Regions from separate parts of the Homo sapiens genome. Here region 2 is linked to region 1. The links come from fine-mapping of genetic effects on gene expression. Tissue or cell type: T cells. Region 1 holds a variant in brackets; the other region holds the start of a gene. All regions are shown on one strand. Distances are from middle to middle.

Region 1 (2,500 bases):
CAGATTGAAAGGTTCAGGGCTATAGAGAACCCTTGACTAGCTGGGATAGAAACTCACATTGAGAAATGGTCTCCTTAGCGCCACAGCCTGCCAGAACCTTAGGCAGTACAAAAAGGCAGGCAGTACTGGTCTAATTCTCAGATCTGCAATCTTAGATGTTGCCAGTGGTCCTTAGGTTATTGGCCAGAGAACTTGGGGGTTCAATTCTCTGCTTTGCTTCCTAAAAACACCACTTAGAGCAGGGGTTAATAACCTCTAGCACTTATATATGGCATGGCTTGTCTCTTTGTTCCTATGCTACAATATTTTACTCCAAAAGACACTCATGGGGCTAGGCACAGTGGTTCATACCTATAATCCCAGTACTCTGGGAGGCCAAGGCAAGAGGATTACTTGACCCCAGGGGTTCAAGACCAGCGTGGGCAACATAGTGTGACCCCGTTTCTACAAAAAATAATTAGCCAGGTGTCCCAACTACTTGGGAGGTTGAGGCTGCAGTGAGCCATGATTGTGCCACTGCACTGTTATAATGCTGTCAACTAGATACATAAAGCAGTTTGCTTAATTTATAGGGTGGCAATAGTCTGGAAACATAAGTCATGTATATATTTCTAATAGTGCAAACTTTGATGACCACTTCTGGGATATGCTAAAGGTGCAGGTTTAGTCAGTGGAAATCAGAGACAAATCAGGAACACAGGTCCATGTGCAGGAAATGATGGAAATGCTACAGTAATACACCTGTTGGTTGCAGTTTGGCACTGTACACTCAACTATGCATTGCTAATAAGGGAAGATGCTGAACGGACATGATGGCATTCAGCACATCATGTACTATAGTGTAATATCAATAAACCATTAGGTACATTTGCCTGTGTTTCCAGACTTTATGGCCACCCTAAATATTCTTAGATACTTGTATTCCTGAATACTAGCTTGTTCAGATCACCCTTCATCCAGAATAACCAACTAAAAAGTTAAATTCTATAGAGAAGTGAGGCATTTAGAGGGGTGAGCATAGTAGCAGGTCTGGATAGGTTCTTCTGGTTTAAGCTTCCCTTCCACTTGCTCCAGGCCAAAGGAACACTACCGAGAACTTTGACACAAGTTCTCAAACCTTAACAGAAGGTAACTGAAGTCCAGATAAAATAATTAACATATGGCTGAATTTTCTCTTGATCAAGTACAAGACACTGGGTCAGTCTGCTGGGAGACAAAAAGATGTTGTTAGATGTGGAACCTGCCTCCAGAGCTCAGGCCTGCAGGGGTGAGAATGAAGTTTGCAGTAATAACTACATTTCAGGGCATATGGTGTGGTGCTCTAACAGATACAGATAACACATTAGAGTTCAAAAGTGGGAATGCAGTTTGGCTAGTG[C/A]AAGTGGCAGATTTCCTCTGCCTTCATACTTGATTCATTTCCAGGCAGGCATCTGGAAGGTTCCTAGTCATACTGGAGGTGGCATACATTTTGCCAACAAGCAGGATGAAAACCTCCCCCACCCAACACCAAGCCTTTTCCTTTTCCAGAACGCCTGACAATTATGCCTGTTATGTTAGTTGAACAGGGATGGTTTATTTCATTATCTTAAAAGGTTTCTTTTAATCTACTATAGCACAACAGTGTTTTAACTTAAATTCATGGCCAAGAGGATGAGGTGCAAGGGGCTTCCTAAAAATAGGTATTTTCTACTATAAAATGGACTCTTGTTTTTACTTTGGCTTGTTCTCCCTGTCCCAGTGGGATGACCCTCACTGAGAGTAGCAGCAAGGGAACCTGAGGTTTTGTCACACTTTGTTCTTCCAGGGTTGCTATCAGCACTGGATCTTGTTGAAGTCAATCCTCAGTTGGCCACCTCAGAGGAAGAGGCGAAGACTACAGCTAACCTGGCAGTAGATGTGATTGCTTCAAGCTTTGGTCAGACAAGAGAAGGAGGGCATATTGTCTATGACCAACTTCCTACTCCCAGTTCACCAGATGAATCAGAAAATCAAGCACGTGTGAGAATTTAGGAGACACTGTGCACTGACATGTTTCACAACAGGCATTCCAGAATTATGAGGCATTGAGGGGATAGATGAATACTAAATGGTTGTCTGGGTCAATACTGCCTTAATGAGAACATTTACACATTCTCACAATTGTAAAGTTTCCCCTCTATTTTGGTGACCAATACTACTGTAAATGTATTTGGTTTTTTGCAGTTCACAGGGTATTAATATGCTACAGTACTATGTAAATTTAAAGAAGTCATAAACAGCATTTATTACCTTGGTATATCATACTGGTCTTGTTGCTGTTGTTCCTTCACATTTAAGTGGTTTTTCATCTTTCCTCCCTCCTCCCACAGCCTGGCTATACAGTGCATCCTTGAACTGTCAGCCCACAGCAGCAATATGCTTATTCTATCCACATCCCTAACATCATGCATTCACAAGGTCAAAGTTCTGGTCCACAAACCCTTCCCTATAGAAGTTCAATGGCTGCGAAAGAATTTGTAGT
Region 2 (2,674 bases), 25 kb after region 1:
TCTTAATAGTTATATATTGTTTATCACCTACCCACTAGAATGGGGATGTTCGTATCTTTTTCACTGTAATTTGCAATATTCACCAGCACCTAGAACGGTGCCTCACAATTCACCAGCACCTAGCACACAGCAGCCTCACAATAAATATATATTAAATACATGAATTTCATTCTCACCAGTCATTCAATTCCTATGACCTTGAGTAATTCGTTGAGCAAACACCCAAGCTCTGACTCTTAAATAAAAGCAATAAAACAAAGTTTTGTCCTTGCCATCAAATTCTATATATCCGGAGGCCAAGAACTATAGCAGCTTTTCCTATGGATTTAGGGCCGGAAAACTCTAGCTCCTCCAGACAGAACTTGTAGCAACCTGAATCATGAAATTAAGGGGTAGTAAACAGTCTCAGCTGTAAAAACGTTCAAAACAAGACCACATCTAAATGCCACAATCAGGTTTTAAAGGCCAGCTCTCTACCCTCCAATAACTGGTATTTACCAACACCCCCAAATTATGACTCCTTTGGGTTTTTAACCCTTTTTCTGTGCTACGGATCCTCTGTCAGTCTGGTGAAAACTAGACCTGTCTTGAGACTAGTGCTTTTAAATGCATAAAACAAACAAAAACAGCTATGAAAGAAACCCACTCTACATTACAGGACCGCAGATGCAAAAGCCCCTCTGCTCTATTTGCCACAGTGAAAAAAGATGAGAAAATGTGGAAGGCCATAGAAGGATCCCAGGGAACTGAATCCCGAGGTCCAATTTACTCTCAGTGGCAGCAGGGAGACCTGGGGCTGGGACAAGCCAGCCCTAGGGGGCGTGTCTGAGGACGCGGAGGGAGGAGACGCGGGCCCGGGTCTGGGAGGAAGGTGGGAGAATCTTCCTTCCAAAGCGCGCAGGGCTGCGCTCCCCACGGCGTGGCCCACCCCCGCCTCACCGGTCCCCGCCGTCCCCAGCAGCCGCTCGGGCACCCCTTGTAGGTCTTCATGGAGGCCGCGGAAGATCTCGTGCAGCTTCTCGAAATGCTCCGAGGAGGCGGCGGAGGAGGCCATGGCGCAGGCCGCGCTGGAGCAGCGGCCACCGAGATTCGGGGCCCTGGGCCCTTTCCTAGCCCGGCGGTCAGCCGCCCAGCCCAGTGGCCATAACGGCGACCGCCGCACCACCGCCGCCCAGGACGAGGCTCTTCCGGAGCCGCGGCAGGGTCCTCTCGAGCCGGAACGCCCACCTTCTCCAGCCAGTGATTGCTGGAGCGCCGGCGCGAAAGCCTGACGAGAAGTCGGGAGACTGCGCGGCCTAGGCGACTCCTGAGGGAGCGGTGCCGCGCCGGGGCGATCGGCAGTCGCGGAACCCGAGAAGTGCCGGGTCCGGGTTGGGGAAAGGCCGCAGCGAAAGGGGCCTAGGGGACCTGCGGGACTGGCAGCGCGGCCGCCTTCCTCCCGGGCCCCGCCGGCCGGCGAGGGGCGGGCGCTGCAGTGCACGCCGGGGGATGTAGTTTGGCTCGGACGAGAGCGTCTCGTCCCGGGGTCGCGCGTTGCTCCGGGTGCCAGGTTCAGCCCGCGCGGCGACAGCGGGCTTCGGCCCGATTTGATGTATGTTTGCGTCTAGACGTCGTCCTCACTGTCATCGCGCTTTGCTTTGCCACCCTGACCCGAATTCCTCGTTTCGCGTCTTGACTGTTAGCTTTCGGCCCTGGAAAGATAGCCGGGCCAGGGGCTCTGCCTGCCGTCGGGAGGTGGAGCACTTTTCTTGGAAGGCCCAGCGGCTCCCCAAGCTTTCAGAAGTGGAACCCGGCCGGGCGAGTGGCTCGCGCCTGTAATCCCAGTACTTTGGGAGGCCGAGGTGGGAGGATTGCTTGAACCCAGTAGTTCGAGACCAGCCTGGGCACAATAGCGAGAGCTCTACCAGAAACCCAAAATAAGAACCGGGCATGGTGGCGCGCACTTTTGGCCCCAGCTACCCCCGGAGGCTGAGGTCCCACCACTGCACTCCAGCTTTGGGAGACCTTGCTCCCAAGTGGAGCGAGATCTTGTCTCCAAAAAAACAAAAAACCCAAAAACCAAAAATTCAAAAGTGGAACCCAGTTAGGATGACCTCGAAATACTCTAGCTGCTAGGCCCGAGTAATTCTCCTCGTGGAGACTAATTCTCCTCCTAGGCTGCCTCGTGCACTTGTTGACAACAGGTGTTTGTCAAGCGTAGGCATTGCGAGGGATCTGGGCATGTTGGTGAATAAAACATTTAATCTCTGCTCCAGGGGAATTTATAATCTGGTGTGGAAGGTGGGCCTGGCTTCATTAGGTCTCATCTGCCACTAAGTGTCACGTGTTAAAAATTACAAGGTCCCTTCTTGCACTCCATGGGTATAAATTCCTGTCTTCACGTCGGGCATGGTGGCTCACGCGTCATCCCAGCACTTTGGGAGGCCGAGGCGGGCGGATCACTTCAGGTCAAGAGTTCAAGACCAGCCTGGCCAACATGGTGAAACCCCCGTCTCTGCTAAAAACACAAAAATTAGCCAAGCGTGGTGGTGGGCGCCTGTAACCCCAGCTACTCGGGAGGCTGAGGCAGGAGAATCGCCTGAACCCGGGAGGCAGTGGTTGCAGTGAGCTGAGATCGTGCCACCACACTCCAGCCTGGGTGACAGAGAAGACCCTATCTCAAAAAATTAAAATA

What was found. PIP is the estimated chance that this variant, and not a neighbour inherited with it, causes the effect.
Region 2: VTI1B starts here. The variant in region 1 is fine-mapped to the expression of VTI1B in T cells (TOPMed, PIP above 0.99). The same link has a PIP of 0.9 or more in aorta, blood mononuclear cells and lymphoblastoid cells.

What each region holds. Positions count from the first base shown.
Region 1 is chr14:67,648,911-67,651,410 of GRCh38, forward strand. ARG2 (arginase 2) reads left to right here. Exons shown (of 8, transcript NM_001172.4): 8 at 1,805-2,500. The coding sequence ends at 2,010. VTI1B (vesicle transport through interaction with t-SNAREs 1B) reads right to left here. Exons shown (of 6, transcript NM_006370.3): 6 at 1-2,500. The coding sequence ends at 2,475. It also overlaps a transcript of GPHN not described here. Among named protein-coding and RNA genes, the nearest start is that of VTI1B, 24 kb to the right of the region's middle. The variant C/A (reference allele first, on the strand shown) is at 1,379.
Region 2 is chr14:67,673,436-67,676,109 of GRCh38, forward strand. It overlaps VTI1B (vesicle transport through interaction with t-SNAREs 1B), which reads right to left and starts at 1,197. Exons shown (of 6, transcript NM_006370.3): 1 at 940-1,197. The coding sequence starts at 1,054. It also overlaps a transcript of GPHN not described here. RefSeq lists silencers at 872-981, 1,082-1,521.